Linked DNA regions of Homo sapiens. The protein of the gene in region 2 purifies or fractionates together with the protein of the main gene of each other region. This does not show direct contact. Each region holds a gene or a part of one and is shown on either strand. Other genes may lie near its edges.

Evidence for each region.
Region 1: the proteins of SLITRK3 (region 2) and VAMP4 purify together in Homo sapiens (affinity purification with mass spectrometry; one large-scale study listed by BioGRID and IntAct). This does not show direct contact.
Region 3: the proteins of SLITRK3 (region 2) and ACVR2A purify together in Homo sapiens (affinity purification with mass spectrometry; one large-scale study listed by BioGRID and IntAct). This does not show direct contact.

The regions. Positions count from the first base shown.
Region 1 is NC_000001.11:171,731,978-171,735,630, reverse strand, and holds part of VAMP4 (vesicle-associated membrane protein 4), read left to right. Parts: intron 1-3,653. UniProt on the Homo sapiens protein: Involved in the pathway that functions to remove an inhibitor (probably synaptotagmin-4) of calcium-triggered exocytosis during the maturation of secretory granules.
Region 2 is NC_000003.12:165,193,545-165,197,731, reverse strand, and holds the start of SLITRK3 (SLIT and NTRK-like protein 3 precursor), read left to right. Parts: upstream 1-1,347; 5' UTR 1,348-2,152; intron 2,153-4,187. UniProt on the Homo sapiens protein: Suppresses neurite outgrowth.
Region 3 is NC_000002.12:147,914,421-147,918,073, forward strand, and holds part of ACVR2A (activin receptor type-2A isoform 1 precursor), read left to right. Parts: intron 1-770; coding exon 771-914; intron 915-2,862; coding exon 2,863-3,006; intron 3,007-3,653. UniProt on the Homo sapiens protein: On ligand binding, forms a receptor complex consisting of two type II and two type I transmembrane serine/threonine kinases.

The DNA.
Region 1 (3,653 bases), on a different chromosome or scaffold from region 2:
GAAATCTTTAGTCACTTACCCAGAGATGCTTGCAAAGCATTAATATCCTGGAAGATGATCAATAAATGCTGACAGTTGATTGACTGATATCTGAGATATGTCAGGTAAATACCTCAGTCCTGGACAGAGAGCCCCTAAGTCACATCTGCCTTTGTGTAAGATGAAGACTGAAGTATGGAAATGTATGTAGTAAAATCACCTCTCGGAACTTGTTTGTAATTCATACAATCTATGTCAATTTTGAAAAATGTATGTAAAGCAGAGAAGGTTGTAGCCAAATTCAATGTATAGTATGCAAGAGTATATTATTTAATAATTTTTAATTGATGCAAATCCCATTAATTTTATAGTTTTATTTTTACATGATTTTAAACTGAAACTATTTATATTTCCTAAGTTCCCCTGTGTTTCTTTCTCACAATCACTGCTGAACGTAAATTTGTTGTTCACTTAATGGAATCACTGTTAAGGACACAGTCACTTGAATATGATTGCTTTTTAAAAATCAAGTCCAGGCGTGATATACTAGGATCACAGTTTCATGGCATGTTGGTCATAATCCTGAGAAAATAGTGACAAAATTATTATTTGTAGATATTAAATACCAGTTTAATAATATGTGTGGAAATCAGATTAAATAGTACATAAAGCCCACCCTAATAACAAGGGCAGGAAAAATTACTTCAAGAAAAACAATAGTAAACCTTAAATTAAAAATAATACAAATAAATAAGCTTTATGAATACATTTTTAAATTTAAAATGTATTGTCTCAATAAATTCCACTGCTGAGACTGTAATTGTATCACTTTCTCCTTATATTCTTCATTGATTATTAGTATATTAGACACCAGAACTGAATAAAATTGACTGTTTCAAGAGAACTCCTTTTTGATGTTTATTATATTATGAAGTTTGATAACTGATTGGTTAGAATAATATATAAATTACTTTTAAAATCTTTTAAAAGTTTTGTTCCTCTTTCCTATTATACTTTTTTGGTAATAGCTTTATTGAGATAAAAGTCACGTACCATACAATTCACCCACTTAAAGTGTACAATTCAGTGAGTTTTATTATATTCACAGAGTTGTGCAACAATCACCACAATCAATTTTAGGATATTTTCATTAGCCCAAAAAGAAATGCTGTGCCCTTTTGCAGTCATCTCCCATTTTCTTTATCCCCTCAGCCTCTAAGCAACTGCACTCCTATAGATTTGTCTATTCTGGACGTTTTCTGTAAATGGAATCATATAACATATAGCCTTTTGTGACTGGCTTCTTTGACTTAGCATAATGTTTTTAAGATTCCTCAACGTTATAGTGCATATCAGTGCTTCATTTTTTTTTTTTTTTTTTTTTGAGACGGAGTCTCCCTCTGTTGCCCAGGCTGGAGTCCAATGGTGCGATCTCGGCTCACTGCAACCTCCACCTCCTGGGTTCAAGTGATTTTCGTGCCTCAGCCTCCCAAGTAGCTGGGATTACAGGCGTACACCACCACGCCCAGCTAATTTTTGTATTTTTAGTAGAGATGGGGTTCCACCATGTTGGCCAGGCTAGTCTCGAACTCCTGACCTCAGGTGATTCACCCACCTCGGCCTCCCAAAGTGCTGGGAGATCTTCATTCCTTTTTATTGCTAATAATATTCCCTTATATTGATATAACACATTTGGTTTGCCCATTTATCAGTTCATAGATGTTTGGGTTTTTTTCTACTTTTGGCTATTTTAAATACTACTGCTATGAGCATTAGCATACCAGTTTTTGTTTGAGCATGTTTTTATTTCTCTTTGGTGTATACCTAAAGGTAGAATTGCTGAGTATTGTAGTAACTCTCTGTTCAGCCTTCTGAAGAACTGCCCAGCTGTTTTCCAAAGTGGTTGTACAATTTTTACATTCTCACCGGCAATGTATGATGATTCTAATTTCTCCACATCCTCACCAACACTTAATATTATCTGCCTAGTGGGTATGAAATATTATCTCATTGTGTCCTATTATTCTTTTTTGACACTGTATCCCTAGCACTTGTGTTTATTCAATTAATATATGAAAAAGCATTGGTTTTCATGTGTGTTTCTCAGTGTACAATTATAGTAAACATATCTTTAGTATCATTATCCTCTAAACCAAATAAATTATTACTATTACTATTATCATTATTATTTTGAGACAGGGTCTGGCTTTGTCACCCAGGCTGGAATGCAGTGGCACGATCAGGGTTCTGCAGCCTCCTCCTGGGCTCAAGCAATCCCCCCAAGTAGCCTTCAGAGTAGCTGGTATTACAGGCATACACCACCACGCCTAATTTTTTTTTTTTTTTTTTTTTTTTTTGTAGAGATGGGGTTTCACCGTATTGCCCAGGCTGGTTTCGAACTCCGGGGCTCAAGTGATCCTCCCTCCTCATCTTCCCAAAGTGCCAGGGTTACAGGCGTGAGCCACCATGCCCGGCCATAAACCAAATACATTATATTATAAATGTAATGCTTGTCTGTTACTTGTTAGCTAGAATATTACTCAAGAAATATTTATTTAAAAAATGACCTAATGCATTTCCTTGAATATTAATTGGTTTTGAACATTTCATGTGGTCATTGGCCATTTCTTCTATTGGGAATTATCTATTTCTATTCTTTGTTTTTCTATAATGTCTCTTTTTCTTACTAGTTTGTCAAAGCTTTTTATATAATACAGACATCAGGTCTTTTGTCTTAAAGGATACTGCAGATGTTTTTTCCCAGTCTGTTGCTTGTTTTTTAACCTTGTTTTTGATGTCTTATGTTCAAGTTTTAAATTTTTATATAATCAAATATGTTAATCTTTTTCTTTCAGACTTCTGGAGTTGTGTGTTGTTTAGGAATAACTTACCCATCTTAAGAGTTAACTATTTATATATTTTCAATCTTTGTGATTTCATAACAAAATATGTCTAAGGTCCCATTTTCCTTTAAGTACTGCTGTGGCCATACTCTTCAGATTTTGACCTGTGATCTTCCCAGTGTCTTTCATTTCAAAATAGTCTAATCACCTTTATTTACATTTAACATAAAAGTTAATGAGAAGGATGTTTTTTGTTTTTTGTGAGGTTTTTTGCTACAGGGTCTCCTTTTGTCACCCAGGTTGGAGTGCAGTGGCATGATCATAGCTCACTCTAACCTCAAATTCCTGGGCTTAAAAGATCCTCCCATATCAGCCTGCTGAATAGCTAGGACTACAGGCATGAGCCACCATGCCTGGCTAATTAAATTTTTTTTTTTTTTTTTTTTTTCCCATAGAGACACGGTCTTGCTATGTTGCCAGTGCTGGTCTTGAACTCCTGGGCTCAAGTGATCCCCCCACTTTGGCCTCCCAAAGTGCTGGGATTACAGGTGTGAGCCACTGCACCCAGCTGAGAAGAGTATTTTAAAACTTCCTTTTTCCATCGCATTATGGTCAGAGAATATGACTTGTGTAATTTCTATTTTTTGGAATTTATTAAATGTCCTTTGTGGCTTACCCATAAAGGAAAATAAAATAAAATTTGCTGTCTAGTTTCAAAGTTCTAGATTTTTTTGTGTGTTTGGCTTCTCCATCTCTGAAGGGTATGTTAAATCCTCCCTATGATTTTGATGTAACTGTTTCTCATAATTTGCGCAGCTTCTGTAAGATACT
Region 2 (4,187 bases):
TAACTTTGCCTTCCTTGGACAATGTATTGCATTCTCTTCAGGAAGAAATGGCAAGAGATACAGAGATGATTCCCCAGGCTACCTTCTATTCACTTTGGGAGTTAGTGGAAGACTGCCCTCTTTCCAACACAGTCTCTGATGAAAGGGATCTATTAAAAAGAATTGCGTTGGTTTACACTGCAGATTGAATGGAGCATTAAACGAATGACTGCATTAGTATGACTGCAGTGGGGGTAATGGTCGCCTCTGTAATGTTGTAATAATACTTTCACATACGTGTTATTACACGTATTAATTGTTCCAGTGTCCGTATCTAATTTATCGCGAAATGGTATCCAGCATCTCTCAGGCAAATGCCCCCCTCCCAACTCCCTGTGCCCTACAGTTTTATGCCCCCCGCCCCCGGCAAATGTAAACAGATGAGGAAATATGTGTACTTTCAAATCGTCACCCATGTATCATGAAGGTGGGGGATTACTGCAAATCACTTGGAAACCGCTCCCCGGAGGCGTTTAGCGATACCGCCCACCAATACAGCTCAGATGTTCTTAATTTGATCACCCTCCACCTTTTGGGCTGTAATTTTCCAAACAGGCATCTCTCTCATTTGCAAATAAAAGTTACAAATCAATCCACGGGTACAGAATGCTGACTTCCCGACACTCAATTTCACAGGGTGTCTCTTGAAGAGCTGCCAGGTTGTGACCGATAATGGGGGAGAGGGAAAGGCGGACAGCGAAAGCGAGAGAGAGAGAGCGAGAGCGAGAGCGAGAGAGAGAGCGAGAGAGAGAGAGACAGAGAGAGGAGAGAGAGAGAGAGAGAGAGAGAGAGAGACAGAGAGAGAGAGAGAGAGAGAGATCACTTGCTTCCTTGCTTCCTAAGCCGGGATTTTGCCTGCGATGCGCGGCGAGAGGACTGCGGCGGCTGATTTACACAGTTGGCGCGGAGGAGGGGCCGGGGGTGCGGGGGGGACGCGCTGGCGGAGCTCCGGCGATGGGCTGATCTGGGGGCTCCCGAGCGCCGCTCCCTTGGTGCGCGATTTGGGGGCGGCTGATGGATTTGCATTCAGGTTCCAGCCCTGCGTTTCCTATATTGACTCCTTATACACGACCTGGCGCTCCAGTTTAGGAGGAGACGTTGGTAAGTAACGTGTAATCCGATTTTAGTTATTTCCTAGGCCATTAAAGTGGCACTTTTAAAGCAGGTCAGTCTTAAAAGATGCCGCCGCCGCCGCCGCCGCGAGCGTCTCCTTGGCCTGAAACGTTCAGCAGTCCCCTCCCCCTCCCACCCCCCTCCCCCGCACCTTCTCCCGCTCGAGAAGTGAGGGTGCTTGAATGGTGAGCGGTCAGAGGACTCACTCTCTGCCAACGGTATCGCTTCACCTTCGTGCTTTGCCTGAGATCTCCCAAATCCAAGTGGAATTTGGTGTGCACAGCCATACTGTGTATTTGTATCTTCTCTCCCCCTCTCCTTCTTTCCCCCCACCTTCGCCGTCTGACCAATGCTGGGATCTGAGATCTAGTCGCCCCCTTCCTGCCTCCTTTCCGCCTCTCCCCACCCTTTTCTTCTCTCATCTACACGCCACCAACCCCCACTCCCACCCACCTAAAGGGCAAAGAGCAAAGACACCCTGGAAAAGCAAGGGCTAATTCCATCTTCTCGGATGGAAGGAGGCCTCGGGCAGGGATTGCGCTGTGAGTGACAACCTTTGAGGAAGAGAGAAAGAGAGAAATCCAGAGACTGAGCTCAGGCTCTCGGGAACAACGAAGCTCTCCACTGATCCAGAGCACCGAGATTTTAAATCAAAGGAACCTAGTCCTGGGACACTCACTCTGCCTGCCTGCCTACCAACCATCGAGGGCATAGGGAGCTGTGGTCGTGAGCTCCCTGTCGCTGGCATCGCCGCGCTAGGTGCGCGCCCCGCTCTCCCATTGGTATGCAGCGACCATTTCCCTGCAAGTCTCAAAGGTGGAAACATTTAAACGGATTACAAGCGTGATTCGGTAGCCTTTCGGAAAGTTGGTGGCCAGAAGAGGAGAAGCTACAAGGCTACAGTATGATGGATACAATTCAGCTTCGCAGAGAGTTTGCCCCTCCTGCTGGGTAGCCCCTCGCAGCAAACCTCGGAGATCCTGAGCGCTCTGCACCATAGGTACTCGCCGCCATCCTTTCCTACTTCGCCTAATTGAAACCAGTATTTCTCGTATGTAGGATGTGCATTGTAGAGCACATCGAGTTTGGCCGCGGTGTATTCTGTACGCTCACAGGTGCTAGGGGTTTGTTGCAGTTTTGAATTGGATCAGTTAGGTGTAAGGACGTTGGTGGAAGGAGGGGTACCGGAGACTAACATACCCTCGGACCTCTTTTCTGGGTGAAGACATCGTAAGTAACTCCAACAAATAGGCCAGGTGGCGGAGCGAAGGACCCCTCCCCCAGTGGAATGCTCGCTGGTGTTGTAAGAGGTAGAAGGAAAAAGGCTTGAGCTTTTAATAATTTTCCGTTTCTAAACAGACCATTGTGCGTTTCGCCTGACGACAGCAGATTAGAAAAGGCTCTATAGACGGCTCAAAGCTCTTCAGAAAATGAATGATGCAGCGTTTTAATTATTTGTTCTAGGGAAGATAGTTTTGCTTCCATATTGGAATACTTAATCTTAGATCTGAAAAAATTAGTGAGCTGTAAGATCCAGCAGTGGGGAGGAGGAAGTGGGAAGGGGGCACAGCAGGGAGAAAGGGCTTCTTGTCCTCCCTCTGGACAAACAAATGGCTCTGGGCGCTCCCAGCAGGACACGGAAAAAACTGGGGCCCCATGGCTCAATATTCCCTAACTTTTGGAGCCCTCCCTGTCCTTTAGACGCGCTATCCTGAGCTAAAGAAAAGGAAAAAGGTGAGATAGCCTTTAGGACACAGCCCAGGTCCAGAACGTAAGGGGTTTTAGTTCAAGAAATAACAGAGACTTCATTGCCGAGACAACATTTACCGTCATCTGGAAGCTCAGGGCAGCCTCCGGGTTACCCATCGATTCCATCACATCATGGGTTCCGATAACACCCGATAAATAGTCACCGCCTCTGCACATTGGGTACCCAAAGTGCTGGGCGGGGGATGGGGGGGAGGGTGCGGGTGCCGGCAGCTGGGGAGGGAGAGGGAATTGCTCTGATTCTGAGCTTAGGCTATCGGTATTGGTTTACTTCTTGGCTAAGACCTATGGGAGCAATAGGGTGAGTCTGGAATATTAAGGGTAGAATGTTAGAAAATTCTGCCCTCCTGCTTACTTAGTGTATGGTGGCATGTTTCTAAAATTAGCTACTGTCTGCCAGTGGACTCCTGTGCGGTCATTTTAAATGCAAAATATCATGGAAATTGCCTTTGACTGACTTTTAAGGAACACATTGTTAGGTGATTTACCTGTTTTAGAGCAGTAAGAAATTGACATGTAAGCTGTGCTTTGCTTTAAAATTTGCTTTTGTAAAGGGTCCATTAAGGGAAAACCATCTCTACCTACTAACTTTGAGTCCTTGGGCAATTGAGGTTCAGTTTAGTTCTTTAGCAACCAAAAAGTCCCTGCCTTCTCCCCTCCCGGCGAGGAGTTGGTGACAGGATTGGTGTGTGCTGGTGGGGGCAGATGGGGAGCATCCACAGCACACGGGTCCTGTTGATTAGACTCCTTTGCTGCACACTTGGCTCTCCCCAGTTTCCCCACCAAGCTGCATTCCTTCCCAGCAGGCAGGACTGTAGTGCTGTCAGCTGAGCCTTAAAAAAATTCCTCTGAAAGCGTTCCTGAACTGTCATCTGGTAGTCCCTCTACAATACAATATCTTCCTTCAATCACCTCCACCCCCACTCCCACTACTCCCTAGGATTCACTCCCCGAAAATTTCACGGAGAAATATTTGAGTTTAAAAAATAAGAAAGAGAAAGAACGGACAAAAGCATCCAAATCCTTAAATCCACCCCAATCCCGCGAGGTCTTTCCCGGTGGCGCAATGTGAAATGTACCATTGTTACCCAAGTGGTCTGTATCTCCTTCCAGAGAATTGGCTTGTCTCTGTTTTTAAAAAGTGGAAGAAAAGAAATGCTGTTGAATCCAGGGGCTATCGAAGGCTTTGACCTGCAGCACAACAAAAGAATTCCTGGTGCAACGGGATCGAAGCAAAATGCAGGAGAAACTCGGTCCAAGTCTTTCAG
Region 3 (3,653 bases), on a different chromosome or scaffold from region 2:
GCTCTATTTTTAAAAAACTATAGCAGTGCACGTTTCTTTCATTTACCATATCCTGTTATCTACTATGATGACCACTTCTTTTCTGGATTTTTATTCGTACTTCTTTGCCAGTCAGTCAGTTCCAGAACACAAATGATTTTTTATCTCAGATCAAAGGGATGAATTGTTAATATGTTTAAAATTAGAATGAACCAGTTTGGTTAAAGAAATATTTACTTACATATTTCCTGTATGTGCTTTGTATTTGATATACCTATCTGCAATGTGTTTAAGAATGACTGCCGGTATCTCTGAGATTAATGAAGAAAAAATTTAAACAGTCACTGGAGAAAGTAATAGATCTTCAGGAGAGGTTTTTGCTGATATATAGTCATAATTTGCTGTTTCTGGCACTTTTCAAATCATCCTCCTCGAAGTACACACTGGATGAAACAAATGAAATATTGTTAGGAGTATTTCGTAGTTCACAGAAAATCTTAGTGGGGAATATTACTGAGACTGATCAGAAAGATTTTAGATCTTCTCTCCTGTGGTACATATATAGCAATAATGCTGAACATTATTATGAAACTCTGAATTCAGGTTGCCTGCCTTGTGATCACTATAGATAATTAGTAATCTAATTATGGCAACATTGAAGTTAATGTCATTCATATGTGTTTACTGTTTCTGTCAGTTGACTTTTCAGTATACTCACTTTTTTTCTCATTTTCAGAGTTGGTGTGTGTCATGTTCTGCTTATTTATAGTATTATTATTATTTATCTGTAGGACCCAGGACCACCCCCACCTTCTCCATTACTAGGTTTGAAACCACTGCAGTTATTAGAAGTGAAAGCAAGGGGAAGATTTGGTTGTGTCTGGAAAGCCCAGTTGCTTAACGAATATGTGGCTGTCAAAATATTTCCAATACAGGTATGTTTATTGCAGTTTTGTCATCTTACATACATGTTTTATGGCTAGGTCATCATAACTCAGAAATAGTCTCAAAACAGAAGCCATATGTACCAAGGTGGTTCTTTGTGATACTGGGGAAAGCAGTTAGCTCTTTTAATGCCTGCCTTTGCATCTGAGAAATGGAATTGTTAATATAACAATCATTATGTTTGTCTGGAGTGGTGGAATTAAATGAATGCATAGTAGATCTTTTGCCAGTGAAAATTCTAATAGAAATGTTAAATAAAGATAAAGATTCCAATAAACAAGTCTAATTGAGTGGTTAAATTTTAATATCCCCCTACGTTGTCAGAGAAAGCAAACAAAAAAACAAAAGAGCAGTATACTTTGTTTTAGAATTGGTATTTAGAGGTATATCACCAGACTTGACTTACTTTCATTCTACTTTGAGTGTTTAATTATTTCAGTTTTTGTTTGATGCATTTTCAGAGGCAATCGAGACTTCAAATAATTGGTTTACTGTTGAATTGTTTTTAAGGTTGGCTGGACTTCTCATAAAACTCTGATCTAATGTACCTCTGAGCTATTCTTGTGTTTTGTTTTGTTCCGTTGGTGGTATAGATTTATGATGATTCTGTCTTCCCCATCTCTTGCTTATATACCCTGGCAGCTCATGATACCCTTGGTACTGACGTCTTGGCTGGATTTGGTGTTGCAGGCTCTACCACCATACTTAGAGAGTGGATGTTTCTTTTTCCAAAGTTATCATATAAGCAGTTTCTTTGTCTTAATATACCTAGATTTTAACCTTTTTACCTCCTCTGTTCAATCTTACCTCCTCTGTTCAGTCTATAAACTGTTTACATAGAGTTTATGAACTGTATTACATTTTTTTTTGGTAGCTGTAAACCACAGTTTAGTTTTCAGAGAGAAAGTGTATTCTGTTGTGCCAAGATTCATAAATAAGATAAGGGAAGAAATTATTTCCATGTGTAAGGAAGCATAAAGCTCAGAGAAAGGCATTTGGATGATATTAACAAGCCCGACAACAGCAACAACAGTAGCTAACATTTTATTGTATGCTTTTATTGGGTCAGGTAGGGGTGTTTTACATATATGAGTACTCACTAATATGTGTACGTATATTACCCACATGTACATAAAATGCAACATATAATACAACAATTCTATAAGACAGACACTACAATGCCTTTTCTACTTAATGAGGACACTGAAGGATTATGTAACTTGCCAGAGGTTAGTGGGAGAGCCAGGATTTAAGTTTGGACAGTTTGGATGCAGAGAGTTTCTAAGGGTTTCTAACCATTATGCCATAGTGCCTCTTACTATTATTGTCTTTTAGTAGTGAAAAGAAGCTAATCTTTTATAAGTAGATACTTAGTAGACATGGATTGCTTGCAGGCACAAGTGAATATATGGTGTCTTAAATTATTGCATTGCATATCTTTGCCCCTTGCTTTCTCATAGACCTTGTAGGGTATGCTAAACATTTTTTGAAGGATGTTTGATATTATGTTAGTTTTTGAAAAGAAGAAGTTTTCTATTTAGAGGAAGTCATTCTGCCGGAATTTCATCTTTCAAGGAGATTATTCTGAATAGTACCACAAGTAACTTCACACCATGATGAAATTACAGTGTAATACTTGCAGTAACTTACGTGTTGCCATTGTAAGACACAGAATGCAGCATTTCCGATCACCTTCTGTGTTTGTAAACTAGAAACACAGAAAAGTACGTTTTGAGGGAATGAAAAGGGCAGGCATTTAGTATAAATTTGTTAACCTATTGTCAGAGCTTTTTCTTATTACAAAACAGAACAAAAAATTTTTTAAGACTTTTTTGTTTTGTTTTGTTTTACTTTGGAACTTATTTGAGTAATCTCTTATGCATGGTTTATTAAACCTGTATTCCTTGTGTTCTTACTATTCTTTCTTTTTGACTCTAGGACAAACAGTCATGGCAAAATGAATACGAAGTCTACAGTTTGCCTGGAATGAAGCATGAGAACATATTACAGTTCATTGGTGCAGAAAAACGAGGCACCAGTGTTGATGTGGATCTTTGGCTGATCACAGCATTTCATGAAAAGGTAAAACTACTTAACGTTTTACTTTAGTAAAGTCTGAGTTGGCCTGCCTACCTAATGCTGGCTATAAATCCCTCAGAGTTATTTTTCGAGACATCTTATAGTTGATTAATATTTAACCTGAAAATAAAAATCATTCTTGAATAAAAATGTTTTAAAAGGTAGTTTATTTTAATAAAAGAGCAAAGATGGCAACTTTTTAACCTAAAACTCTACTCATATAAACCACCCTTTTGTTCCTTATTTCTTGTGCTGTAATTACTCTTACAAACATTTATTTTAGTGTAGGTAATGCTTAGTAATTTTCATTTACCATTTACAATTCATTTTGATTACGTGAACCATTTTTTTAAGTTTTAATCAGTCTTGCTTGTGACAAAACCAGAGTCAGGAAATTTATCTGATCTTTGATCTGTCACTAACTTGCAGGGTAATTATCACCAAAATGTAATTGCTAGTTTTCCTCAATTTTTCTACTTTTAGAGTCAGTGTGAAAGTACCATTAATGAAGTAGGAAATTATGTTTTTGGTAATTGGTTTCATCATTGTGAAATGTAAGTGGTTCTTTTACTTCTCTTATCTTGACCTAAAGGACAACAATAATCTAGAGGAATATTCTACATATTAGTTGTTATTTTATGTTGTTATTT